Linked DNA regions of Homo sapiens: region 1 is linked to region 2. Evidence: fine-mapped expression QTL. A gene starts in region 2. The other region holds a variant in brackets. All regions are shown on one strand. Distances are between the middles of the regions.

The links. PIP is the estimated chance that this variant, and not a neighbour inherited with it, causes the effect.
Region 1: its variant is fine-mapped to the expression of SNAP47 in whole blood (TOPMed, PIP 0.92).

What each region holds. Positions count from the first base shown.
Region 1 is chr1:227,771,520-227,786,060 of GRCh38, reverse strand. It overlaps SNAP47 (synaptosome associated protein 47), which reads right to left. Exons shown (of 5, transcript NM_053052.4): 5 at 4,835-5,534. The coding sequence ends at 5,388. Among named protein-coding and RNA genes, the nearest start is that of PRSS38, 37 kb to the left of the region's middle. RefSeq lists enhancers at 7,172-7,954, 11,179-11,996 and a silencer at 9,267-9,467. The variant G/C (reference allele first, on the strand shown) is at 8,306.
Region 2 is chr1:227,728,429-227,743,031 of GRCh38, reverse strand. SNAP47 (synaptosome associated protein 47) reads right to left here and starts at 7,597. Exons shown (of 5, transcript NM_053052.4): 1 at 7,533-7,597. JMJD4 (jumonji domain containing 4) reads left to right here and starts at 7,730. Exons shown (of 6, transcript NM_023007.3): 1 at 7,730-8,020; 2 at 8,216-8,381; 3 at 9,000-9,125; 4 at 9,351-9,618; 5 at 10,005-10,151; 6 at 10,356-11,841. The coding sequence starts at 7,759. The coding sequence ends at 10,640. RefSeq lists silencers at 1,057-1,260, 7,259-7,548, 8,009-8,208, 14,512-14,603 and enhancers at 1,248-1,792, 1,793-2,338, 12,662-12,711, 14,525-14,603.

The sequences.
Region 1 (14,541 bases), 43 kb before region 2:
GAGACGGGAAGTACTTTCCTGAGGCCTGGCACACAGTACATGGAGGGATGAAGCATCCACCCCGACCAGGTAAGCGAGAAGGGAGGGCTGGCCCATGGACTTCTGGATGGAGGAAACGCTGGGCGGTGGATCCCAAGATGCCTGAGACTCCTGGCCCTGGTGCACTGCAGCTTCTCTCAACCCCTCAGTCAAACACTAATTAAGGGCTGGAAAGGATTCTGCAGGTGTCATTAAGGCCCAATGATAGGGGTTGGCTGTGTCCCCGCCCAAATCTCATTTTGAATTGTAATCTCCGTAATCCCAGGTCGCTGGGAGGGACCTGGTGGCAAGTGACTGGATCATGGGGACAGTTTCTCCTATGCTGTTCTTGTGATAGTGAGTTCTTATGAGATCTGATGGTTTTATAAGCATCTGGAAATTCCCCTGCTTGCACTCACTCACTTCTTCCTGCCGCCCTGTGAAGGTGCCTACTTCTGCTTTGCCTTCCGCTATGATTGTAAGTTTCTTGAGGCCTCCCCGGCCATGCAGAACAGAGTCAATTAAACCTTTTTTTTTTTTTTTAATAAATTACCTAGTCTCAGGTATTTCTTAGACCAGGTGCGGTGGCTCATGCCTGTAATCCTAGCACTTTGGGAGGCCGAGGCGAGCAGATCACGAGGTCAGGAGTTCGAGACCAGCCTGATCAACATGGTGAAACCCTGTCTTCCAAAGTGGCTGCACCATTTTGCATTTCCACCAGCAATGGATGCGAGTTCCTGTTGCTCCATGTCCTCCCCAGCAACTGGTGGTGTTAGTGTTTTGGATTCTGCCCATTCTAGCAGGTGTGTAGTTGTACCTCCTTGTTTTAATTTGCAGTTCCCTAATGGCATGCGATGTGAAACATCTCTTCAGATGCTTATTTGCCATCTGTATATCTTTTGGTGAGGTGTTTGTTATGGTCTTTGGGTACCACTTTTACTTGGGTTTTAATTTTTGCTGAGTTTTAAGAGTTCAGAAAAGTTTTTTTTTAGATTTTAGCATTGTTATTAGAGATGGGGGTCTGGCTTGGTTGCCCAGGCTGGTCTCAAACTTATGGCCTCAAAGGATCCTCCCCCGTCTCAGCCCCCTGAGTTGTTGGGAGCCATGCCTGGCTTCAAGAGTTCTTTTTCTATTTTGGATGAAGTCCTGTGTCAGACATCTTTTGCAAATATTTTCTCCCAGTCTGTGGCTTGTCATTTCATTCTCTTGACAGTGTCATTTGCAGAGCATTAAGTTTTAAATTTTAATAAAGTCCAGCTTGTCAATTTATTGTTTCATGGATCATGGCTTTGTTATTATGCTATATCTAAAAAGCCATTACCAAGGGAATGTAAATTAGCCACCAATTAACCACTAGGGAAAACAGTTTGGAGGTTCCTCAAAAAACTAAAAAGAGAGCTACCATATTATCCAACAGTCCCACTGCTGGGTATATACCCAAAAGAAAGGAAGTCAGTATATCAAAGAGGTATCTGCACTCCCATGTTTGTTGCAGCAGTGTTCACAATAGCCAAGATTTGGAAGCAACCCAAGGGTCCATCAACAGACCAATGGATAAGAAAGTATATACACATTCACACAATGGAGCACTATTTGGCCATAAAAAGAATGAGATCCTCTCATTTGCAACAATATAGATGGAACTGGAGATCATTATGTTATAAAGTGAAATAAACCAAATACAGAAAGAGAAACTTCACATGTTCTCACTTCTTTGTGGAAAATTAAAACAATCAAATTCATGGAGATACAGAGTAGAAGGATCGTTACCAGAGGCTGGGAAGGGTAAGTGGAGGTTTGGGGAGGAGGCAAGGATGGTTAATGGGTACAAAAATACAGTTAGAAAGATGAAATATGCCCTTTGATTTGACAGTACAACAGGGTGACTATAGTCAATAAATTGTACATTAAAAATTACTAAAAGAGTATAATTGGATTGTTTGTAAAAAAGCATAGAAACCCTGTCTCTACTAAAAATACAGACATTGCATGTCTGTATCAAAACATCTCATGTGCCCCATAAATACCTATTATGTACCCACAGATATTAACAATTAAATGAGTGAAAAAAATTTATAAGCTATCATCGTACCTAAGGTAACCTACATTTTCTCCTATGATATATTCCAGGACATTTCTAGTTTGCATTTTACTTTTAGGTCTATGATCCCTTTGAATAATTTTTTTTTTTTTTTTGAGACAGAATCTCACCCTGTCACCCAGGCTGGAGTGCAGTGGCGTGATCTTGTCTCACCTCCGCCTCCCAGGTTCAAGCAATTCTCCTGCCTCAGCCTCCCGAGTAGCTGGGATCACAGGTGCTCGCCATCATGCCCAGCTAATTTTGTATTTTTAGTAGAGACAGGGTTTCACCATGTTGGCCAGGCTGGTCTCGAACTCCTGACCTCAAGTGATCCACCTGCCTTGGCTTCCCAAAGTGCTGGGATTACAGGCATGAGCCACCGCGCCCAGCTCCTTTTCATTAATTTCTGTTTAGGGTGTAGGGTCTGTTTGATTTCTTTTGCACATGCGGACATCTAGTTGTCCCAGCACCATTGTGGGACCATTTTCTGCATTGTGGTGCCTTTGAATCTTCTCAGAAGATGAGTTGACTATATTTATATGGGTCTATTTCTGGGTCCCCTAATCTGTTCTATTATTTGTCTCTCCTTTTACCAATAACACACTGGTTTGGTAACTGCAGCTTTGTAGTAAGTCTTCTAGTCAGGTAGCGTCAGTCCTCCAACTCTGCTCCTCTCCTTCAGTATTGAATTGATTATTCTGGGTCTTTTGCCTCTCCATAAAAACTTTAGGATCATCTGTTAATATCCACAAAATAACTTGCAGGGATTTTGATTGAAATTGCATTGAATCTATAGATCAAGCTGGAAGGAACAAACATGTTGAAAATACTGAGTCTTCTTATCCATAAACATGGAATTTTTCTCCATTTATTTGGTTCTTCTTTTGTTCATCAGGGTTTTGTAGTTTTTCTCATATATATAGAAAGAGTACACTTTTTTTAGACTTGTACCTAAGTATTTTATTGTTTGGGGGTGCTAAAGTAGAAGTACTTTGTTTTTAACTTCAAATCCACTCATCCATTGTTGGTATATAGGAAAGTGATTAACTTTTGTATATTTTGAAATCTTGAATAGTTGTTCATTATTCTAGGGGATTTTCTTGATCCCTTTTTACACTTTCTACCTGGAAAATGTCATTTGTGAACAAAGAGAGTTTGTTTCTTCTTTCAGTATCATTAAACTTTAACTTCCTTTTCTTGCCTTGTTCCATCTGTTAGAGCTTAAAGTGCTGAAAGGAGATGGTGAGAGCGGATGTATGGGCCTTGGTCGTGATTTTAGTGGGAAAGTTTCTACATTCTTACTACTGTATATCATGTTAGTTTTGAGGTCCAGTGGACAAGGAATGGTCAAGTGACACAAAAGGCCTCACCTGATATTGCAAGGACTTGCTGACAGTGAGAGGTCAGGGACAGGGGAGACCCCACCCACACTGTGAAGTCCTGAGAACAGCGAGGGGTCAGGGACAGAGGAGACCCCACTCACACTGTGAGGTCCTGAGGACAGGGTGCAGCCTCTTCCAGGCTTGATGGGGGTCTGCACGGTGGCTGCAGGCATGGTGAGCCCTTGCTGCCGGCTCCCAGCACTGACAGGAGGGGGGGCCATGGTGTCCGCATGCCTTGGGCTAGGCTTGAGGGCCAACACTGGCCTCCTTGGGGTGTCCAGACAGGCTGGGAGCACTCACTCACCTGTGGCCTTAGTGGAAGGACCCCAGAGGGGACAGGGCAAGGTCTCCTTCTGCAGGCTGCTAAGTATAAACCAAATAAGAAAAAGCAGAAAACAATTTCCCAGATCAAACAAAAAATAACATCAGAGTGCTGGGTGCAGTGGCTCACGCCTGTAATCTCAGCACTGTGGGAGGCTGAGGCGGGCGGATCACTTGAGGTCGAGAGGTTGAGACCAGGCTGACCAACATGGAGAAACCCCATCTCTACTAAAAATACAAAGTTAGCCAGGTGTGGTGGCGCATGCCTGTAATCCCAGCTACTCGGGAGGCTGAGGCAGGAGAATCGCTTGAACCTGGGAGGCGGAGGTTGTGGTGAGCTGAGATCATGCCATTGCACTCCAGCCTGGGCAACAAGAGTGAAACTCCCTCTCAAAAAAAAAAAAAAAAAAAAAAAATCAGAGCTCCCTGGGCTGTGGCTTTCTAGAGAGGCTGCTTCCCAGTTTTCCTGCCAGGCACCTGCACTGGCTCTGGCGACTGGCATTGCAGCCCCTAGTCCAGCTGGAGCCTCAGAGCAGGACCTCCTGTGGAACTGGGGTCTTAGCAGACATTCTCAGTGAGTGACATCAAGACCAGGCCATCCTGGATTAGGTTGGGCCCTGGACCTGTGGCAGGCGGCCGTGCAGGGTCCTCCCCAGAACCTTTGGAGGGAGCACGCCCAGGATATCTCAACGTGGGGCTTCTGGCTGCAAAGCTGCGAGGGCCCCTGTGTGTGAGGCTCACTGAGCAGCCCTGGGAAGGCAGCACCACTGGGCATTGGGTGCACCAGCGTGGAGGCCCCACAGGCTGGGCCGTGGCACCATCCTGGGACTCGCCTCCCATGTGCCCGCACCCTTCCTTGCAGCCCTGCACGGGGCATCTGAAAGCAGCATGGCAAAGGGGCACCACCCGCAATGTGACGCGCAGTCCCGCCAGAGGCCATGCTCACCTACCCCAGGGCCTCTGAGGGAGTGGCCACTGACCCAGACACAAGGCACCAGGTGGAAACACTGGCACCCATCTTCAAAAACCACTCTGAAGCCAGCATTTCCCTTTATTTCTGGATGGAAACGGGGCCCTAAAAGCAGAAATCAATATTTTTGTTTGAAAGATGCAGTCATGCTAATTTCACTTTTGGCTAAAACCGAGACGATAAAAGAACAGTTGGGTGTTTATAGGATGCCCTCAAAGTGAGCTGGCTAAGTGAGCTGGGCTCTAACTTCACTCACAAATTTATAGTACAGCTAAGAAGGCCAGTCTGTCCATGAAAGGGAGCCGAGACAAGACGAGGGCGGCCTCTTCCAGGCCTGTGCCAAGTGTCCTTGGGGTCCCGCCATGGTCCACACTTCTGCAGCATCCGCAGAACATGTGGCCGGGTCCTGCCCAGCAGCAGGGACAGCCAAGTGGGAGGCAGGCATGGTGCACACCTGGGGAGGCCCCTGGTGCAGAAGCAGCCCCACAGTAGCAGCCCCATCCAGAGGAAGACCACTCCGGAGGGCCACAGGCCTCTGCAGCCCTGGCACTGCCGCCCAGCCCTCCATCTCAGCGGGATGTGCAGGGTGAGACAGGAATGCAGGGACGTTCTGCCCCTAGGTCAGCCTCTTCATCCGCCTGTTGTGCTTGTCGATGGTCAAGGTTGCCCTGTCCACAGCTGCTGCAACGCCATCCAGGGCTTCGTCTTGTCTCTCCAGCTCACTCTCGGCCTCCAGGGCCAGCCCCTTCATCCTCCTCAGGATCTGGGGAGAAGCACAAGATCACAGCAGAGGCTGCCATCTCTGCAAACTCTAGCACAGACAACATCTCCCCCTCTCACACACCCAAGAGCCTTTGCGTTACCACCTGGGTGATGCCATCTGCGAGCCAGCAGGAGGGAGCCGGCAGCCCAGCACCAGGGTCAGGTCATGGCTCTGCCTCTGCCAGTACAGGCCTGATGAGATGAGGTGCCTGCCCCACCTCCTGCCAGCTGCCTGCCCGCACCTCCTGCCTGGTGCAGTGGCCACACCCTGGCCTGCCATCTCCAGGCTGCGGAGTGCTCTGTTTGGCTGACCTTGTGGGAGCGTTGCATGTGGGTGTGGAATTCCTGCCCACAGTGGGGCAGCTGGGGACCTGGGCACGCAGCTCGGATTTGAGTCCCAGCTCTCACCCAGCCACTATGCTGGGTGAGACCTGTCTGCATGTGGGTCCCTAACTGCAGACTGGAGTGGGAAAGCAGGATTAAAAAGAAACACAAACCCCTTCTCTTGTCTCTAAGTGTGAGATGTTTCATGCACAATGCAAATGACAGAATGAAACTCTCCATACGGTGGAGGGCAGCCAGCACCGTGGGGGTGTGGGAGATGGTCCCCGGCCCAGCAGATGCAGAAGGTGGAGGCACGCAGGGCCAGGCAGGTGTGGATAGGGAAGGCTGGATGGGGTGGGCCGCCCCAGGAATGCTAGCACAGAGATGTGTCCCCTGGTTGCAGCAGGGGCGATGAGCTAAGGGCTGAGCTGGTGCTGTGTCTGTGGCTTAATGAGCTGTGTTCTATGAGGAATCTAGGAAGGTGAACCACACTGTGAAGCGCTGCTTTACACACTCAGCCTAGGTCTAGAAGCCTCATATGCCCACCTGACAATGGAGAAGAATACACTGGAAAGGAAACTTGAGTGACCCACCACTTGCAATAAATGTCCATGTCCTCTTTCAGGGAAAGTTCTGGATCACTGCTTAGGTCAGGAGAAGGAACCCTCAGTGCTGTGTACCCACCAGTTGGACAGCAGTGACCATCCAAGGTCTAGGGCGTGGTGATCTTGAGGGGGGCCCCTACAGCTCCTCTGGTTGCCTCTAGGAACAGCACTCCTGAGCCCTGGGGGAGCAGCCTCCCCACGCTCCGCCCAGTGACATGGCGGGAGGCTCAGCATCCTGTGGGGTTGGGCAGCCAGGGCAGGTGATTCAGTGCTCCCCAGCAGGGTGGCCAGCAGTGGGACACATGCAGCTTGGGATTCAGGGTCACAAGCAATGCCCCCGCCTATGGTCCGGCCTTCATCTGACCCATGAGAAACAGTATGAAGGCGGCCAGGACAGAGGGCCAGCTGGTCAGATCCAGCTCCCTCCACTGAACGGTGTGGCTCACATGAGATCACAAATGCGAACAAGCTGTGAAAACCGGAATGGGCCCAGCCAGGGTGGCTGCCATGCTGCAGAAGGAGCCCTTCCCCGGCCAGCTGCCCAGCCCCTCTGCAGATGGCACAGGGAGTTGGGGGCTGAGGTCACTCACAGGCACACGGCAGAGGTGAAATGAGCCACATGTCCCTTTCCAAACCTGGCCTTCCTGCTGAGATATTTGTCATAAGACAGATGAATAAATGCCTGACTAGAGCCCCAGTCCCAGACAGCAGGGCTTCTACACCCTCGGGAGCTGGCAGAAACTCCATCTGTTGAGTCATGACTTAGATCGCTGGATGGGGCTCTGGAAAGTATATGGTGGGGTCAGTGGCTCCAGGAGGACGGGCAGATGACCTCACACAGGAGGTCTTTTCCACCGCCTGGCCCATGATCTCACGTGGCCCACACCCAAATTGTGCTGTGACAGGGAAGAAAGCCTCAGCCCACCCCTTGCTGGCTCTGCTAACCTGCTCCCTTCTCACCTGCCCCTGCTGTCAGTGTGATCCTGAGGGCATTGCTGGAACCAGCAGGCACAGCCCTTGGAAGGGATGGCTGGGCTGCACACTCACACTGTCCCTGTGCCCACATCCTGTGAGGAGGCCTCCTGGAAGCCAGGGACATGGATCCGCTCGGGATCTGGTCTCAGTCCCTATGTCCCTCGTCAACCATACTAAAATGTGATTTAAGTGTATTTAGAATTTAAATGTCCTTCAGGGCCACAGGGCTCCCATGAGCTGACGGCTGGGGAGATGGCCCAAGGCCCCTGCCAGGACCCACAGCTCCAATGCCTCCCACTAGCCCCTGCATCAGCTCTGCCCTCTCCATGACCATGGCGTGCAGTGCTATCAGGAGACACCACTATTTGTCTTTTCTGTTAATAACTGCATGTAGAAAACCAGGAAACATGAGAGAAGTTAAGGAATAAAACAAAATCTGCCCATAATACAGACCACTGTTAGGCTGGCACCATCAGTGACACAAGCACACTCCTATCTGGCTTTTTCCCCCGTCGCTATGTCCATACACTCTTGCGAATAACTCAAATTTGGGATTAAAGTACATACACAACTTTGTCTTCTGTTTTTACCATCCTATAGCTATCCTGAATGAAAGCTGAGTTATTGGATATGCAATGTAAGCTGACATTGTTCTAAGAACGTGGCACATTTTATCTGTTTCACAGAGAGGGTGACCTGCCCCCGGTCCTGAGGATACACTCATTGCACATAGAGATGCTGTGGGGCATGACCCAGACCACATCCCGGGTCACCGCCAGAAGTCCTATACCCCTTACAGATGGTGGCAGGGCCCTGGGACATCCAAGGGAGGCTGGGCCAGGACCTGCTCTGGCTCTCTGACTGGAGT[G/C]TCTTTGGCAGGATGACACTAAGAGTAGCTGAATAAGCTGTATTAAATCTGTCTAACCCTGACCCAGATGTTCAAAGGTAAAAATGATAGGGAAAACAAATAAAATACTGTACTGAACCCAATAGACATAGAGTACCATTTGACATACATCAATGCCAATAATTATTAAACATACATCATATTCTTCTTTTATATACAGTCCTAGCAAGCCGCCATGAAGGTTACACTACCTACGGCAAGGCCCAGCAGAGACCCGCAACAACTCAGGGATCAGGAGCCACATGGAGATCAGGACCACAGGGAGGCATGAAGCCCGTCCACCTGGGGCCACCTCCACACAGACCCCAACAGCCCCACACTCCCGTTCACTATCTTCCCCACAAGACGCCTGTCCCCCAGGGTCATCTCCAACAGACCCAGGCAGCCCGGCACCCCTGTGCGCCACCTTCCCTGCAAGGCTGAGTGGTGCGTGCCCAAGATACTGGCCGTGCTAGTGACCCTGGTTGTGATGTGATCACTTTATGTTTCATGTATGGAAAACTTCACTACGTAACCCATGAGTATGTACAATTATTCTCAACCTAAAAATATTGTCTATGACATCTCCCCAGAATATAAAGAAGAAAATAAAATAACTTTTTTTTTTAAAAAAGACATCAAATTCATGCCTTTTTCTAGTGCATAAGAAAGCAGTGGGAATAGCAAAAATTTCTATAGTTTAGGGTTTTGCCTATTAAGCACAGTAATAATATGCACAATTTATTTGTGACTAAGACCAGCTGATCTGCCTATAGAAGCGGAATATTTTATTGTGTACACAGACAAAATAAAGGCTGGCTCCTGCTGTACTTTTTGATTTGAAAATGTCTCACTACGTTGAAGGCCTTAAAAGAGAACTCATTCCAAATAGCCTGTTGAGACCCTTGGCCTGCCTGCCAAAATTGCACTTGAAGTTAATTAATAGTGCAAAAACACAAGAGCGATCTGTACAGCTGCTAGGTCTGCAGACAAAGAACATTCCTGAGCGAACCTTCAAACTGCTAGTGTCCTGGAGTGCAGGTCCAGATTCTTTTTCCTTTGAGAAGGGACTGAAGTAATTACATGGCATCGTGTGCATTCCACATAACAGGGATGGAAAGAATGGAGAATGTGAAGTCTGGCCAAACCCTAGAAACAGTTGTTCCTCTGCGGCCTGGGGTGACAAGCCATCTAGCCATTGTGCAGGATGCTGTCAGCTCCGAGGCAGCCAGTGGCCTCACACAGGAACCTTCATGGGCTCTGAGTCAGAGGCGAGGCGCAAATCAGACTTCCTTGAGTCCCTGCTACATGAGTAAAGAAATCCAGGAACCAGCCTTCCTTCCAGCCAGTTCGACCTCCACAGAAACTACCTGATTAAAAGTGCTTTGGGTTTTGGGGGAAACAAACTTTTATAAACTTCAAAGAAATAGAGCAAGGAGTGCTTGAAGGACAGTACAATCCAGGCTGGCCCTGGGGCATGCCTGCGAGCCAGACCTGATAGAAGTGTTCCTAAGAGAAGCTGCAGCTTAGAGCATCAGTGGATGCCTGGCCAGACCCATGGCCAGACTCTGTGGTCCTGAGCGGCTTGTGGGACCCGCTGAGGGCGTCAGAGCCAGGAAGGGGAGCAGCCCTGGGTGACTCAGGCAGGCAGCAAGAGGCACAACCTGAACAAAGAAACGCAACTGATGCGTGGCTGACACTGCCAGCTTATGGCCATGGTCCCCCAGGATAGCACCAAAGCCACTTTCCTCCAACACATCCGTGAGGAGGATGCCCTGGGCGCTGTGGGCCTGGCCGGCTCCCTCATGCCCTGAGCAAAGGCTGTTCTGGAAGAAAAGCTTCCGCTTGCTGCCCTGCTAGGAAAGTCTCTGTCTCCACAAAGCTCCTGCAGACTCGGAGCAAAGCATCACCAACACTGTCTGGGTTGACAGCGACATAGGCCGGAAGCCCTGCAGAGCAAAAACAAGAGAATTTAGCATTCTCACCATTTCCATTTTGTTTATAAAGGCAAAAAATAAATATAGAAAAATAGCCTAATGAAGTAGGGTGGGCCCACCTACAAAGCAGCTGTGTGTCCATGCGCGCACCATTAGGGCAAGGCTGAGTGCTGGGGGCCTGAAGACGTCCCAGCCTTGTGCGTTCGCTGCCACCAGCAGCCCGGGAAGACAGTGCTCCAGAGGCACGCACGGCCTTGGCCTCCAAACTCTGCGGGACATCGGCTCTTGTGTCCCATGGGACATGTCTGCTCTGGCTCGCCTCGCGACGCCGGAGTGCGGCACATCACCGTACCAAGCCAAGCACCGAGAGCAGTCTGCTGTTAGCTGGGCTGCCCTGGCCGTGTCATTAAGCTGACTCACTGAGGAACTGTGAATTTTCTTGCAGTGAGAAATTAGCAACCATTTAAGAACAGAGCTGGGATAAATCAAGCTGTCTACAACTCAAAATAGTTCTACCAGTTGGGGCCATTAATATGCTGCAGAGAATGTAAAGGGGGAAAATTGGCTCTCACCGCAGCCAAGCTCTGGAGGCCGTAAAGAACACTCTCTGCTGCGATCTGTCACACTCGGCACTCGCAGACCACCCTGCGGCCCGCCCAAGTCCCCTCCGCTGCATTCCTGGAGGCCAAGGTGGTCTGTGCACTAGCCGGGGGGGCAGATGCAGGGCCCCCCTCCTCAGGACGCCCCCGCGGCGGTGGGTCGAGGCAATGAGCACGGCGGCCTCGCTGCTCAGAGGGGACTTTGATTCAGCCGGGCCAGCTGAGCTCACTCCAGGCGTGCACAGGAAACGCCATGCAGAGCAAGGAGCTGGGCCTGGACTGGATTGTCCTGCCCAAGAGCGCTCCCTGCTCCTAGACCAGGGATGGAGATTCCCATTAAGAGACCCGAGTGCTTGAGGGACGATGAACCCTCACTAAAGTGTTCAGTGAATGTGAACTGAGTGCCACTGAAGGTGCATCGCACACGTGGAAGAACCTCAGTGGTACCCTCAAAATAGGAAACAAACTGAAAATGCACTAAAATGTGGCTCTTTCAAGAGGTTGGCCACAGCCCCACAAAACCCACTTCCCAGCCTGAACCAACACGGCCAGAGCTGTGGCCAATGAGTCTGCTCCCAACTTGCCAGGCACCTCATGCTCTGCCCTGCGCGCTGCGGCCCGGTCCCCCTTGCCTCTCACCTACACCTCGAGGCGGGACACTGCTGTGCATGGAGGGGACAGGAACAGGGCCCAACACTCAGGGCTGTGACACACAGCTCAGCAGCAGCCACAGTGCTGACCCCTGCCATTGAGGGCCACTCTGCAGCCTCACTCTCCCGGTGGGTGACACCTGGCCCAGTGAACCTACCTCCGGCATTGCTCTTTCATCCTTCAACACATGGTGTCAACAGCTGCACAAACCCACTTCCCAGCCTGAACCAAGACTGCGTAATACCTGCTGACCACATTTAAAGGCTAGCAAACGTGTCAAAATGAACAGAACAGCTAAGCAGAGGATCCATACAGAAACAGGAACAGGCAGCCTGCACAGCACTATAAACCCATGGCCCAGGAGACCAGTGCAGAGAGCTCCACCTACAACCGCAGGAGCCCATTCTCCTCTGTACCAGATGCCTCCATGGGCCACAGGCTGGGAGATGGGCCACGGACTGGGAGGCAGCCCTCAACAAGCCTAGAGAGATGGATCCACAGCAGGTGTCTCCTCCAACCACAGCAGAGGGAAGCTAGCAACACGGCAAACTGAAGTGTTTACAAATTAAACAACCAACAGGTGATGGAAGGGAAATTAGTAAATTATTTGAGATGAATGAAAACAAAATCATGATATACTAAAATAGTCATGTGCTGCCTAATGATGTGGATGCATCCTGAGGAACCATGGCTCGGGGTCTCATCGTGGGACAACGCTAGAGTACACATACACACACTGAGGGGGCAGGGCCTGTGGTGGCCGGCTGTGTAGCGGGGCACACCCCCCCAAGCTGCAGGCCTGCATGGCACACCACAGCACCAAGCAGCACAAGTAGCTGGAGCACCACGCTAACTACCTGCACATCTAAACGTGGAGAAGGTGCCGTAAATGTGCAGCATAAAGATACGAAATGGCACGCAGTGTAGAGCGCTTCCCGTGAGCAGGGCTGGCAGGACTGGACGCGGCCCTGGGTGTGTGGTGAGTGAGCGTGAAGGCTTAGGCATGACTGAACACTACTGTGGACTTTATCAACACTGCGCACTAAGGCTCCACTAAATTTATTTTAAAAAGTCTTTCTTCAATAACAGGTGAGCCTTAGCTTCCTGTAACTTTTGTATATTACAAACTACGATTTTCTTTAACTCTGACTCTTCTGTAATAAAATTTCAAACACAAACACTATATAGCCGTGCCAGAATAATTTTTCTTTATATTCTTATCCTATATGCTGTTTTCTCTTTTTAACTTATTTTATTTTTTACTTTTGAAACTTTTTTTTGGCCAGGCACAGTGGCTCATGCCCATAATCTCAGCACTTTGGGAGGCTGAGAAGGGAAGGCTGCTTGAGCCCAGGAGTTCAAGACCAGCCTGGGCAACATAGGGAGACTCCATGTCTACAAAAAAAAAAAAAAAAAAAAAAAATTAGCTGGACGTGGTGGTGCACACCTATAGTCCCAATTACTTGGGAGGCTGAGGTGGGAGAATCACCTGAGCCTGGGAGGCGGAGATTGCAGTGAACCGAGATCATGCCACTGCACTCCAGCCTGGGAGACAGAGTGAGACCCTGTCTCAAAATAAAAAATACAAAAAACCTTATGACAAAGCTACAGTAATCAAAACAGTGACATTAGACTGCAAAATGGAATTAAGTGAGAAACCAGAGATAAACTCATATTATCTATGGCTAACGGATTTTCAACAAGGGTGTCAAGACCATTCAATGGGGAAAGAACAGCTGGTTTACCAGATGGTGTTGGGAAAACTCGATCTGGACACACAGAAGAATAAATCTGGGTCCTCACCTCACTCCGCACACAAACATTAACTCAGAATGGGCTCACAACCTAAAGAGGAAACCAAAACCACAGAACTCCTAAGAAAACATGGGGGTAAAGCTTTATGATCTAGGGGTCTTAGAGCATTTCCCTTGATAATAAGAGGACCACTGTGTACCCCAAAGACTTGAGAGCAGGGCCTCAAACAGATGCTCACGTGAACGCTTACAGCGGCATTCTCCATAGCAGCCCAAAGGAGGAAACAGCTCGTACATCCACCAACAGAGGGGTTTTCAGTGCATGGGCCCTGAAAACCGTATGCCAAGTGAAATAAGGCAGGCACAAAAGGACAAGGGCTGCGTGACTCCCCTGCTGTAAGGAACCCAGAGTGGCAGGCTGGCAGAGAGGGAAGGCAGAGTGGTGGGCGGGGGGCTGGGGCAGAAACGTGGGTTCGTGTCTCACAGAAACTGTTTCTGTGCAGGATGATGGTGGTGAATTTCATTAACTCCACTGAATTGTACACTTAAAAATGGTTAAAATGGCAAAATTTGTGTTTTATATATTTCACCACAATTTTTAAAAAGTGAATAATGAGAAACTCCCCACTGCTATAACACGTATTACCTTCCACAGCCAGGGCCTCCATGACACCCAGCACTTGCCCCGCACACTTGGCCTTCATTAAAGCGACAACTGGGAGGACAGGAAAGGCTTGGGGTGGGGTGAGTCCTCCAAGCCTGAAGTCCCACTCAGCACTCGGTCAAGCACTCGGTCTCTGCTTGACCTGTTCAGCTGGTGCAGCCTGGTAGTGGCCTTGGGAGGGCTTGTCAGGTGCTGGCCTCCGGCCCTCAGCACAGGTCCCACACTCTCTCCTGCCAGGCCCTTTGCACCGGTAGTTTCCCAGGTGGTTTCTGGGTACTGGTTGGTGTGAGCATCTGGGACCCCAAGGGCTGTGCCTGGCATGGCCTCCTGTCCCCATCACTCTGAAGCCATGGGCCCTGCTCAGCCCAGGGTCCTGGGTCCTCTGCAGTCATGCCCAGCACAATGGGAGTTTGGGGGGCATGGGCACAGGAGTGGCTCACCCGCAAAAGCAGAGGGTGGGGGTGGGGGTGGGGGTGGGCGGGGTGCACAGAGGCGGGTGAGCAGGCGTTCACTGTCACAAACCCATTAGCCAAAGAGCATACAGGTTAAAAGGGAAGGCGTGGTGTTCCCCTGTGATGCCGCCTCCACTCAGCTGCCATAAGTCTGAGTTACA
Region 2 (14,603 bases):
CAGCAAGGGCCCAGTGGGCCATACACAGGACCCACCCCCTCCAGGGCCACCCACTCCCCACCAGGGCCATGGCGAGGGTCGGCAGGCCACACACAGGACCCATGATGCCGTTCTGCCACAGCAGCTGCAAGGCCACCCAGCAGGCTCTGGACTATGGGGACACAAAGATGTCTGCTTCTCAGAATTAGGAGGAGGATAAACTACACCAACTCAGTCATGCTCCTCAAAGTCAGGCAAGCCAGTACCCACAGGAGGGGCTGTGGCCCTCCCTGCTCAGCCCTGGAGTTGCTGTGCCCATGCTCCTGGCTGAAGAGGCTGCCCAGACCTCAGCCATACCTGGCCTTCGAGGGGAGGGACCACGCCTCACCACCACCACCTCTATACAGAGAGCTAGACACGGTGTGGACAGTGAATGTGTGCTAACCATTGCTAAGCAGGCATGGTTGGGAGGTATTTCAGGAGTGTGGAGGGAAATTATGCACAACCTCCCCGGAGAAGTCCTGTTACTGGTGTTGCAGCACAGTTTACAGCTCTGGAAACATCACCTCACCTTCTGGACCTTTTTACCCACCGTCAAAATAACTAAAAGACCTAAGGTCACCAGCTCTAAAATCTTTCAAATTCAAAAAGAAAGCTGGGCATGCTGGTGTGCACCTGTGGTCCCAGCTACTCAGGAGGCTGAGGTAGGAGGATCACTTGAGCCTGGGAGGTCCAGGCTGCAGTGAGTCGTGATTGTACCACTGCACTCCAGCCTGGGCAACAGAGTGAAATTCCGTCTAATTGAACAATGAGAACACATGGACACAGGAAGGAGAACATCACACTCTGGGGACTGTTGTGGGCTAGGGGCAGGGGGGAGGGATAGCATTAGGAGATATACCTAATGCTAAATGACGAGTTAGTGGGTGCAGCACACCAGCATGGCACATGTATACATATGTAACTAACCTGCACATTGTGCACACGTACCCTAAAACTTAAAGTATAATAATAATAAAATAAAATAAAAAAAGAAAAAAAAGAAAAAAAAGACCAAAAAATTAGGACATGAATAACCAAGGCTCTTCTCATTATCACATTTTAAACAATAAATATAAGGAAAGTATTCAAGTTTGACAACAGCCCAGGAAGAAGCAAGAAGAGAAACTTGTAGCCACCCTTTTCCAACTGCAGGTTTCCAGGGCTTCTTTCCCAGAAAACCTTAGTCAACGGAGATGCAGTGCAAGGACGGAAGTGAAGACACCCCATGGAACATCAGAAGCAGCCCAATCTTGAACACGGCCCCCACGCCGGCCAGCCATTCCCCTACCCGACGACACGCCTGGCCCCACACAGAGGCCACAGGAGAACGTGGTCCCTTTTCACCTCCAAGGCCAGACCCTCCTCCCGGGGCCCTGATCCCACCCTCTCTCTCTCAGCCCCCAGACCTCTCCGGCCCTCCCATGCCAGGCACTGCACTCTCCGTGAAGGACCACGCATGGTCTCCGTCACCACTACACAGCTCTGCTGGGGTGGAATGAAAGTGGCCACACACAAGACATCAACATGGGGTGTGCCACCCCACAGGACCTCACTTACAAAAATGTGGTAGCTGGACCTGGCCCATGAGCCAAGGGGCCTTGCTGAGAGTCACTGCACCCTGGCTCCCTGGCCACTACCCTCTCCAGGTCTCCAGCCCCACTTCCATGAGTGCCTGCGTCCACTCTCCTTGGCCATAGCCTCCTCATGCACCTGACTGCACAGGGCACAACCTCTCCTCCTTGCACCCTCTTTTTCCAGGTGAGACAACACAGGCCAGAAACTCAACATCACCCCCAAGCCGTTGCCTCCCAAACACCCACTCCAGCCAGACTCCCTCACGCTTCAAACTTGGACATCTGATCACTCGCTGATCTGCCCCCACCCCTAACAGGCACTTGAACTTCACATTCCTTCCATCAGCTCCTCCCCTATCACCTGCTGGGTATCTGCCCCCATCCCTAACGGGCAACCCAACTTCACAGGCCCTCCCCTATCACCCGCTGGGCATCTGTCCCTGACCCTAACAGGCACCCCAATTTCACAGCCCCTCCTGTCACCCGCTGGGCATCTGCCCCCACCCCTAACGGGCACCCCAACTTCACAGCCCCTCCTTCAGCTTTCAGCTCCTCCCCTATCACCTGCTGGGCACCTCCTCCCACCCCTAATGGGCACCCCAGTGTAGCAGCACCAGAGTCAGTTCCTCTCTCAGTAAAGTCACCACGGGCCCAGGACTTCTGACTCCTCTCTTCCTCCCCCTCAAGAAACATGCCATGAGCATGTCCTGGCAGCTGTGTCCCCACCCTCCACCCCAAGACCACATCACTGACCTGGCACAGGCATTGTCTGGGCCAACCAGCACAAGCAACACACTTGGGGGAAGGTGTTGTAGTCACAGGGACTCACTCATCACACACTGCAATCTGTACAATGGGTCTCTCTCAGTCTTTCCATTATATGTGTGCCCCCTGAATGAGACTCAATCTCCAGGAAACAATCTACTTTTAGTTACTTTCCACAGTTCCACCATCCAAGGCAGTCCTCCCTCCCTCCACACCTGGACAACATCTCAGGCAACCTCCTGACCTCATCCTGTCCCCATCACCCATTCCCCCTCCAGCAGTCAATGAGATAGTCATTGAACAGAATTAGAATATGTCACTTCTCTGCCCAAAGCCTTTCCCTGTGTACTTGGAATGAGATCCAAGTTCCTTACCGCAGCCTCATGGACTCTGCAGGACCTGCGGCCTCCCTGCCCTGGCCTTCCCCTGCCCTCTGCTCCCAGCAGCCTTTCCACACCAGGGAGTCTCATTGGTGGCTCCACTCCGCAGGTCTCTGTTCGGAGGGCTTCCTCGCCTTCCTAAGGCACTGTCACCAACCATGGCCCAAGCAAAACTCCAGAGAGTTGGTGCTTTCATGACTGTCGCACTACAGAAGGCACTATCATGGGAGGGCCGCAAGGCCCGCTACACACCATGGGCACCCAATGAATTTGTGCTGAGTTGACCACAACCACACCACATGGAAACAGAGCTGTGCCTATGCCCTCCTGTACCACATAGTTCTGCAATCAGTCCAGGTCCTGGAGCCCTCACGGTGTCCCTGCCTGTTGCAATCTGCAACCTCCTTCCTCCAGTGCAGGTGTGGGCCTGGGGACCCGCGCTGACCCTGAGAACACACAGCTGAATCCTCGAGGGAGGTCATGGCCAGGGGCCCAAGGGTGTCTGCAGCCAACCCACACAAGTGACGCTCTTGGGGAGGAAGTCTGCAGCACAGGGATGGCTCAGCACGCAGGGCGATCTGTACAATGGGTCTCTTTCAGCATTTCCATCACTCAAGGGTCCCCTGAGTGAGGCTCAGTACCCAGTAAACAACTTATTTTTAGTTAATTTCCGCAGTCACAGAACAAACATCTTGCACACCTTCCACTACCTCGCAACCAAGAAGCTAAGTGAGAACAGTGGTGGCTGTGTGTGCCCACAGGGGCGGTAGGGTGCGGCCAATCTTTCCAGGCTCCCCTCCCCTGCTCCTCAGACCCTCTTTCCACTCCCTCAGAGGTTCCCAACTCTAGCCACAAAGTGCAGACACCCTCACTGGGGCTGTTTGCATGCAACACAGTGACAGAGGAGCACATATTCGGCACAAAGCGTACTGCATTTTCTCCAAAGTGCTGACTTAAAACCCGTCCTGGCCAGGCACAGTGGCTCATACCTGTAATCTCAGCACTCTGGGAGGCTGAGGTGGAGGATCACTTCAGCCCAGAAGGCAGAGGTTGCAGTGAGCCAAGATAGCGCTATTGCATTCCAGCCTGAGTGACAGAGGAAGACCCCGTTTTAAAACAAAAACAAAAAACCATCCTAATGGAGTATTGTGTGGGGCCCAAGAATGTGGATTTCTTGCCATTCCCAAGCGATGCCAGGGCTGATCTAGCGGGCTCTGGGTGACACAAGCCTATGTTCCAGTCCCATGAGAGCTGATAACACTCCAGGCCTCCTGCGTATACAGTGGTGACACTGACCCGAGGGGGCACCCTGCGGACCAGCGAACTAAACCACAGAGTTCCATCTCAAGAACGAGAGCTCCATCTCCCACCAAGTCCTAGGGGCTCAGTGATCTCAGGGAGCTGTGGACCTGCTAGCCCAAATGCTCCTTTCTTAGGAAACAGGCTCAACCACGGAGCTGCAGGAACTCCTTCCAGGCAATGCCCACCTGAATTTCAGTTTCCCCATGAGGCAAACTCGGAACCATATTCCAAGATCTTGAGACAATTATAAACACTCTGCTCCCCACATCTTCCCCATTGGCCTCCCATGATCTGCATGCACCACAACCAAAATCAAATGACTACTAGCAATTAAGGAACAATATGTGGCAAGATCAATTAAGGTCAATTAATTGTCAATATTGAGGTCAATATGTGGCAAGATGTTACAGCATATTGTTAAATAAAAAACAAAAGACTAAAAGCAGCAAAAGTTTATATATGTATATTATACACGATGGAGAAAGAGACTGTGTATGTGTGAGTGTGTGTGCATACATGTGCGTGAACGTATAGGCAAGGACTGGGGGGAGAGAAGAGTGGAGAGAGAGAATGAATGAATGAATGAATGTATGTGTGAAGGAATGTAGAAAAGCCGGCTCTACACCAGGAATAAAAAACGGTCATCTCGGCTGGGTGTGCGGTGGCTCACGCCTGTAATCCCAGCACTTTGGGAGGCCGAGTCGGGCAGATCACAAGGTCAGGAGTTCGAGACCAGCCTGACCAACATGGTGAAACCCCGTCTCTACTAAAAATACAAAAATTAGCTGGGCGTGGTGGTGCGCGCCTGTAATCTTCGCTACTCAGGAGGCTGAGGCAGGAGAATCACTTGAACCTGGGAGGCGGAGGTTGCAGTGAGCCAAGATCATGCCATTGCACTCCAGCCTGGGTGACAGAATAAGACGCGGTCTCAAAACAGCAAAAACAACAAAACAAAAAACAAAAAACAAAAAAACCAAAAAAAACCAAAGCAAAAAAACCCCAGTCATCTCTGGACGGAACTGGAGGTGATTCTTTCTCTGCAACTGTAACTTCTCCAGACATTCTGATTCTCTAGTGTAAAAAAAACCCCAATAAACAATTGCATACCGTGATCACACAAGCCACAATAGGGCTGACTAGGAAGGGACCATAGCACGCACTGAATCACACAATCCCCAAAACAACTCTCCGCCTCCTGTCCCTGCCCTCATATCCCACCTTTACCTGGACTCAGACTCCCAAAACTCACTTTCCTCCTAGTCCTCCCTCCAACTCCTCAGACCTTGGTCCTCCCTCTTCTGCTCCTCCCTGTTCTCCTGGGTAAACCTCACACCCCTTGGAAAGAGTCTTCCAGCAAGGCTCAGAGCCCCAGCACTCCTAGAACCTCCCATATCCCCACTTATAAGAGTAAATAAAACAACATTTCCATTGCTTCATAAAGGGAAGGCAGGTGCCCCTCTCCCGCTTAGGATGCCTCTGTTTGGTCTGGAATGAGATAGCCCAGTGTCCAGATTTTACAAGACACAGTCATGGTCTGATGGCCCCTAGAATGTCATCAGACCTCCAAACCTAACTCAAAGGCCTCGCACTGTGTGCAAACCAGCACAAGCTGCCTCTCATTTCTCTGGGAGAGATGAGCGGTTCTAACTGTTCCTCCTTCCACCTCCCTGTCAAGACGCCTGGGAAATGCTGCCCAGACTCTGCACTCTCTCGCAGAGCACCTATGTGCACACAGCCTGCCAGGCTTCGGGGGCAATAAATCTGCTATCTTTCCTTCTGCATCCATGTGGGTAGCTTTGAGCTGATTTCTCCAGCACACCAAGACATACATCACATAGGGTCCCCCATGGCCCCACTTTCGTGTCCTGGCCGAAAATCACAGAGTACCCTGATCCCTCTGTGCCCCAACCACAGGTTTTCCCCACCAGGCTTCAACCCAATCCAGGGCCTTTAACATTTCCAGGCATGGAAGAAAGTATCTAGGTTTACTACAAAGAAAACGGCCTTGGCCCTGAGCCAAATTCCTGAAACCTTCCTATAAACTCCATAACCCACACCCCTTCCAAGAGACATACCTAGGGAGGACATCCCTTTTCCCTTACTGCCCGTCTCGAGGACTACCGCAGCCCACTCTATATGAAAGTTCCCCTAACAAAACCTCTAGGCAGGGCCTGGCGCAGTGGCTCACACCTGTAATCCCAGCACTTAGGGAGGCCAAGGCAGAAGGATTGCTTGAGCCCAAACGTTCAACACCGGCTTGGGCAACACAGAGACCCTGTCTCTACAAAAAAAAAAAAAAAAAACAAAAACAAAAAAACAAAACTAAGCTGGGCATAGTGGCTCATGCCTGTAGTCCCAGCTACTTGGGAGGCTGAAGCAGAATTAAAGAATTCATCAAGCCCAGGAGGTGGAAGCTGCAGTAAGCTGTGATGGTGCCACTGCATACTGTCTCAAAAAAAAAAAAAAAAAAAAAAAAAAAAAAAAAAACTGCTCTGGGCTTACCATGCATTTAGCACTTCTTTCTTTGGTATCCCAACTGGTCCCACCTGAGGATAGTGTGGGGAACTCCCTTGCCGCCACTTTTGGGGTAACTCCAGTTGCAAGTTTGGCAAAACACTCCTCATGTCACTACTCCGATGTCCTCCCACTTCAGCCCTGCTCATGTGTACACAGCCCCAAATCCCTACCCACACTCCCACCACACCTTCATTTCACACCCTCCCTCATTCCCCACCATCTTCTCCAGACACCCGTCATCCCCTGGGGCCCCTTGCCATGCCCTCCAGGTCCCCTGTGGGCCCCATTCGCCCATCTAGGTTACCCTGCCCCCTCCAGCCCTCCCACCATTTTCCTCCAGGTCCCCACCATCCTCTCTAGATCCCATGTCCCCTCCAGGTGCCACTGATCCCTCCAGGAACCCACTGTCCCCATCCCTTCCAAGTGCTACCGTCCCCTCCAAATCCCCACTGTCCCCTCCAGGTCCTCAATGTCCCCATCTCCTCCAAGTGCCACCGTCCTCTCCAGGTCCCCACCGTCCTCTCCAGGTCCCCACTGTACCCATCCCCTCCAGATCCCACCGTCCTCTCCAGGTCCCCACTGTCCCCATCCCCTCCAGGTCCCACCGTCCCCTCCAGATCCCGTCTCCATCCCCTCCAAGTGCCACCGTCCTCTCCAGGTCCCCACCATCTCCTCCAGGACCCTACCATCTCCGCTAGATCCCACCATCCCAGGGCCCCCCAGCTCTCCCTCTGGGTCCCACCGTTCTCTCCGGGTCCCATCATCCCTGGGCGCCCCCGCACCGCCGCACTCCCGCCCCCAGAACCGCCTCTGTCCCCGCCCCTCTCCCAGCGCAGCCCGCATACCCCCCACCCCCCGGGGATGCGGGAAGGAGGGCTCGGGCTGTGTCAGCCACAGCGCGCGGACTGAGCCGAGGGCGGACGCTACGGCTTGGCTTGGGCCGGGCGCCCAACAGACCAACACCGTCGCTCACCTGAGGGACGCCAGACGAGTCCCAGAGCCGACCGCGGCGCCTCGGCCGCTCGGCGCCTGCGCAGTGAAGACCGCGGCGAGCCGCGCGCATGCGTGCAGGCCCGGAGCCCCAGGCGCTGGCGGGGCAGAAACGCGGCGCCCTGCGTCTTCTGGTTCCGAGGCTGGTCCTCACCGTTTCCGCTCCGGCGGAAGTGAGGAGGAGGGTCCTTCGACCCGTGCTGAGCTGGATGGACCGCGAGACGCGCGCCCTCGCCGACAGCCACTTCCGAGGCCTGGGGGTCGATGTCCCCGGCGTCGGCCAGGCTCCGGGCCGGGTAGCCTTCGTCTCGGAGCCGGGCGCCTTCTCCTACGCCGACTTTGTGCGGGGCTTCTTGCTGCCCAACCTGCCCTGCGTGTTTTCCAGCGCCTTCACGCAGGGCTGGGGCAGCCGGCGGCGCTGGGTGACGCCCGCGGGGAGGCCCGACTTCGACCACCTGCTACGGACCTACGGTGGGGCGGCGGCCGCAGACCCCGGGCGGGGAGGAAAGGCCGGCGGGACCCAGGCCCGGGAGGCCCCCGCCTAGAGAGGGGCACCAGGGAGGGTGAGGGAGGCCAGGCGCGTGGCCCCTGGAGAGTTCCTCTGCAGACGGTTTGGAGTGAGGACGGGGCCCAGGGAGATGGCATGGACCGTGCCTTTCATTTCAGGAGACGTGGTTGTACCAGTTGCAAACTGTGGGGTCCAGGAATACAACTCGAACCCCAAAGAGCACATGACTCTCAGAGACTACATCACCTACTGGAAAGAGTACATACAGGCGGGCTACTCCTCTCCCAGGGGCTGTCTCTACCTCAAAGACTGGCACTTGTGCAGGTAATGGGGCTTGGGACGCACCGAGGCGCTGCCTTCCCTAGCGCTGCGTGAACCCAGAGGCCTTTCTGATGAAGGTGGCCCCTGGGTGCACAACGGAGCTATTTTTCCCCGTGAGGCACTTTAATCAGTTTAAAAGAAACTGGATTGTCTTCCGCATGGCTGCAAGTGTTGTTCTTTGGGAGGTCAATATGGTTTTTTTTCCTTTTTTTTTGAGAGAGATCTCCTCAGCCTCCCTAGTACCTGGGATTACAGGAAGGCGTCTCCACTCCCGGCTTTTTTTTTTTTTTTTTTTTTTTTTAAAGAGACTAGGTTTCACCATGTTGCCCAGGCTGGTCTTGAACTCCTGAGCTCAGGTGATGCATCCACCTCAGCATCTCAAAGCACTGGGATTATAGGCATGATCAGTACTTTCTAATAAGCAGAACCATTGTAGTCAGACTGCCCCGCCCCCTCCCCCGCCAGCAGCGTCTGGCTCAGAGGAGGGTCTGGGGCTCTTTGGGGGCTGCAGCCATCTGGAAGCTCCACTGGAGCCGATTGGTCTCAGTTGCCCCACTCGTGCTGCCCTAGTCTCCTCGTGCCTCACGTGCTGTCGGTGGTGCCCTTGCGCCCTCCTCACAGGGACTTTCCGGTGGAGGACGTTTTCACCCTGCCTGTGTACTTCTCGTCCGACTGGCTGAATGAGTTCTGGGATGCACTGGATGTGGATGACTACCGCTTTGTCTACGCGGGGCCTGCGGGCAGCTGGTGAGGCCACGGATGTGGGAGTGGAACCCGAAGGGGCCTGGTGACAGAACGGACTGGGAGGCCCAGGGTGGCAGGAGGGGGGCTGCTTGGCACAGGCCTCACAGTGGGTGCCATCCCTTGAGACCAAGGGGCCACCCCTCCTTCAGTTGGACCAGGCCTCTGGGGTGCCAAGCAAAGCCCATACCAGCCCCTACAGGCATGAACCAGGCGCTCTTGCTGCCGCAGGTCCCCGTTCCATGCTGACATCTTCCGCTCCTTCAGCTGGTCTGTCAATGTCTGTGGGAGGAAGAAGTGGCTCCTCTTCCCCCCAGGGCAGGAAGAGGCCCTGCGGGACCGCCACGGCAACCTGCCCTACGACGTGACCTCCCCAGCACTCTGCGACACACACCTGCACCCACGGAACCAGCTTGCTGGCCCACCCTTGGAGATCACGCAGGAAGCGGGCGAGATGGTGTTTGTGCCCAGTGGCTGGCACCACCAGGTGCACAACCTGGTAATGTGCTGCTTCTCCTGCCCCCTATCAGGGGCCTTCCTGCAGGAAGACGGCAGCACCACCTCCCCACTCTCCCAGCCAGAGCTGGGCTGGAATGGGGTGGCTCATGGGTGAGGCTGACCCCTTCACAAGGTGGTGTCGCTGAGGCCTAGCCTCTGTTTCACCCACTGCCGGTCCCTGGGTCTACTTGCTCTGGGTTCACTGTGGCCTGAGGTGGTCCGAGCCCGCCACCCACTTCCCTGCTGAGCAAGCCCTGCTGGGAGACAGGAGGGCCCTCTTGGCTGCAGAGGGCTGGACCCCACAGTGGGTTCCTGGCGCAGGAGATGTGGGTTGGTCAGGGGGCACCTGCCATGGGCTCAGGCCTGCCTGCACTGTGCCCCTTCCAGGATGACACCATCTCCATCAACCACAACTGGGTCAATGGCTTCAACCTGGCCAACATGTGGCGCTTCTTGCAGCAGGAGCTATGCGCCGTGCAGGAGGAGGTCAGCGAGTGGAGGGACTCCATGCCCGACTGGCACCACCACTGCCAGGTGGGGTGGCTACGCATGGAGGCTACCCTCCTGGGGGAGGCTTTTAGGCTGCATGGCTCAGACTCCCTTGGTCACCGCGCAGCTTCTCAGTGCCTCTGTCTTAATGGTCCCTTCTTCGTCCTTGGGGACTGGGCGCATGTCGGGTCCTTTGCAGCTTGGACTGTGTCCATGGTGTTAGCTCACTGGCCTCTTCCCTCTGCCCAGGTCATCATGAGGTCCTGCTCGGGCATCAACTTTGAAGAGTTTTACCACTTCCTCAAGGTCATCGCTGAGAAGAGGCTCCTGGTCCTGAGGGAGGCAGCCGCTGAGGACGGTGCTGGGTTGGGTTTCGAACAGGCAGCCTTTGATGTTGGGCGCATCACAGAGGTGCTGGCCTCCTTGGTTGCGCACCCCGACTTCCAGAGAGTGGACACCAGCGCGTTCTCACCACAGCCCAAAGAGCTGCTGCAGCAGCTGAGAGAGGCTGTTGATGCTGCTGCGGCCCCATAGCACCTGTCGTGAGGATAGAAGGACGGGTGGAAGAGAGGCAGCCTCCTGCTCCGGGGCCCTTCCAGAAATAAAGACCGCCCTCCCTGTGACCTGGGGCCCACCCCTGTCGAGGCTTGTGGCCTGGCTGTTCATGGCCACTGCCTGGGTGCCTGTTTTCAGGTGAGGCCCAATGAGGTCAGGGACCCAAGATGGGATGTGGCCCTTCTGACCTGCAGCAGGCCTGCTGGGAGCTCGGAGATGGTGCCAGGACCTGGCTCTTTTGGGGGCCCTGCCTCCTTAGGCCAGGACGCCTGAGCTGACAGGAGTCTGTGTCTGGTGTGCCTTCTCTGGTGGCTCCTCTTAATAGGCCAGCCCTGTCCCCTCGTCTCAGGCCATTGGACCACCCCTGGCTCTGCCCTGTGGGTTCAGGGAGGGGTTGGAGCAGTGCTGGGCAAGCTCACCAGGGCCTCCAGGCAGGGCTGGGGTTGGCCTCCATCACCTCCAGGTGATGGGCTGTGGAACCAGCGGCCTGCGCCTTCCTCTGGGTACCCAGAGTGGAGGGCTGGGTTGGGCTGGCCTTTGCCACCTCCCTGCCTTTGCAGGGCCTGTGGACAGCTGGAGAGGCCACAGATGGGGTGGAATCCCATCTGCTGCTGAATCCTCACCTGGGCCTGAGGGACTGTGCCTGCTGTGCACTCACAGCTGGGTCTTCCCAAGGATGCTGTTCTCAGGAGTGGTGGGTCCCCAGCCCCTCTTCACACTGGGTATGATGGAGGTGTGGGCGGGCTCGTCCAGGCCGATCAAGGCACAGCAGTGAGCAGCGGAGGCCTGTGGTGGGGAATGGACTCTCGTGGGATCCTCTTGCAGAGGATGCCCCAGGCCTGAACCCTCTAGTGGATCCACAGTTTGTGGAGACTGGCACTCTCCCAGCCCTGTCCTTGACCGAGAGTCCAGCATTTTTTCAGTTGGCCCCTGGTTGGCTGCCTCACCCCAGCAGGGGAGGAGGCATCCGAATCCACAGGGACGGCACGTGCCATGGCTATGCACATTGCCTGCCCGTGGCATCAACTGGGGCCGCTGGCACTTGTCTAGGATGGAAGCCCCCAAGAAGGGCAGGGGTTTCTGTCTGCTCTGTTCAGTGAATCATGTGAAGTGCTTGCAAAGGCAGCTTTACACAGTAGGTGCTTCATATGTGTCTGTCGAATGAATGCGCTCCAGCCAACAGCTTTCCAGGGACCTGTATGCTGGGCCCCCCTGCTAGCTCCCGGGGACCCCTGGTCTGTACGGGAATGCCCTGAGACATCCGGCCTCCTACAGATGGAGCTGGCGCTGCCCAAACCACGGGCAGCAAAGGTGCTTTGTCGGGGAGGAGGGGGAGGTAGCAAACATGCACGGCTGCAGCCTTGCCAGGACCAGGCCCAGGCTGAGTGTGGGCGTGGCTCACCCATTTAGCCCCTCCGGTAACCTCTGAGCTTGGGCCTCTTGGCACCCTGCCACACAGGCACACCTGAGGCCAAGAGTGGGGGTATGTGCCTCGGACACTGCCAGCAGGCAGCTGAGGTGACCTGTCCTTCAGCTTCTGTCATGATGAGGGCAGCACTGTGGACCCCAGGGCAGCCAGGGCCCAGTGCGAACTGGCAGCACAAGGTAGCACAGGTCGCAGCCCATTACCATCCAGGCTGCTTGGTCCTGCGCTCCTGAACTGTATGTGAAGACCCTCATGCTTCCGCAGTCAGGAGGCAGTGCACAGACGCTCCCGAGAGCCCTGCTAGCCTCAGTCACTTTTTCTTGGTTAAAGCAGGCATTGAGAATCTCAGGCTGGGGCTGTTACAGATGCAGCAAAAACAGCAAATGCCAGAAGCTCTGTGGGGGGAGATAGAGCCCTCCACAGGGCAACGGCTGAACTGCAGCCGGCATCGATGACTCCATAGTCAATGACCATGACTCCTTTTGCATACCTCACTCCAGATTGGCAAAAAAAAAAAAAATGCTGACACCAGGGCCAGGTGGGTTGTGGGGCAGCCGCTGTGCAGAGTGTGGCTAGACAGCAGTTTGAAGTGTCAGGCAGGATGCCCCTTTCCCAAGTATGCCGCCCTGGGATCCTGTCCGGGGTTGGGGAGGCATGCTGTCAGCACATGTGAGGGCCTTCGCAAAGGGAATTTCACCTCTGCAAGAGGCCTGACAGGCCACGTCTCCCTGGGAACCAACCTCCTGGGGTACGAGGTGAGGAGCTGCAGATGTGCGGTGGTTAGCCCCTGCCCTTTGCGTGTCATCCCTATCAAGTGTGAGAAAGGACAGGCAGGCTGCAGCTAACTAGTGTTCCTGAGGAAAGGGGTCAGAGAAACAATGCAGATGCTCAAGACCTAAGGCTACGTGGGAGCTGCACATAGATGGATATACTTGCAAGTGTGGGGACAATGGCTGTGCACCCCACCATGCCTGGGTGAGGGCGTGCAGTGGCCCAGATTCCTTGGGGAGTGGGACCTGTGGGCCCCCATAGGAAGGCTGGAAAAGTCAGGCCCTGCTGTCTGCACAGACTCTAGCCTGGGAGGACACAGAGTGAGGGAACATGATGGGGCCTAGGGGCTCCTCCAGCACGTGCCTGCCCTGCCCTGGGCTTGCAATTGTGATTGGCTGGAATCCATGGAGGTGGAGACAGGAGCCCCAGGTCAAGTTGTTGCTGGCTGTGGCAAAACCAGGCTCCCTGCATCCTGGGGGCTGTGGCCTCCGGAGAAGGTGCCTCCCCCAGGGACCAAGACCATCCTCATGCTTGTGCCTTTCCGCCTGCTGACCCAGCCGAAGGGGCAGCTCCTTGGCCAGCTACCCTGAAGCCCACATCCCAGGTCTGGGGCATCCCTGAGAGCCACATCCAAGGCCACATCCTTCCCTTTGCTCATCCATGCTCCAGAGTGTCAACCTCAGCCCTGTCCCCCATCCACCACTGTGGGTGGTTTTGGCAGGTGATTGTGCCAGCGTCCCACAGAACTGCAACTACCAGCTGCACCTTGGGTCCCCAGGCAGAAAGAAGGCAGGCCCTGGTTTCCAAGTCAGTGACTTGTTCCACTGGCCTAGAAGCCAAGGGTAGGGACCAAGATGTCCAGTGTCCTGTTGTCTGTACCCCCAAAGTCAGCAGCCCTGGAGGCAGGAACTCCAGGGACCTGGGCCTCTCACTCCTGCCTGGGGTCTGACCCCAGAAGTCCCCTTCCACAGGCCCCAGTTACCCTCCCACTGCAGGCTCTGACCTACAGGAAAACAGCTGGAGCTGGGCTCCTACCCTGTTCCTCTGGGAGAGCCAAACCCTGTCCTGAAGCTAGAGGAAAATCCACGGGCAGAATCCTGCAGACGCACACCCCAGATAGACCCCACCTGGGGCCCCACGCCCTAATCAGACCCCGCCTGGACCCCTCGCCCCACCTAGAGAGCCGCAGCTCGTGGATCCTGGCCTTCCTCTGCAGCCTGCCGCCCCCCTCCCCTGCGTGAAGGCACCAGAGTGTCCACCCCCGCGGCCCCACTCAGAGATGCGTGCCTGCTCCCATCGGAGGCCTTCGGCTCCGCGGCAGGGCCTGCCTGCTCCCGAGACCGTTCCCCTCGCCTCTCCTGTCGGGAATCGGGGTCTTGGGTATTACCTTCAAATCCGGCCATCTTCCCGCCACAGCGAAGGAGAATCAGACAGCCCGTGCCAGGGACGTGGGCCAGGTCCTCACTGCCCTTGCTTCTGGGACCCTGTGAGGGCAGGAACCGGAGCCTTGCCCTCATGACTTTGGTTGGGGGCAGTGCCAGGTGGGAGGTTTCCTGTCGGGCACTAGGTTGGGGCGGGAGGCGGGGCGGGGCCGGGAGGGACAGGCGGGGAGGGGGCGGGAGGCTGGATCGAGAGGGCAGGGGCGGGAGGAAGGAGGCGGGACCGGGGCGGGAGAGCCAGGTGGGGCGGGGCTGGGAGGGAGGCGGGGAGAGGACGGGATGGGAGGGGCAGGCGGGGCAGGCAGG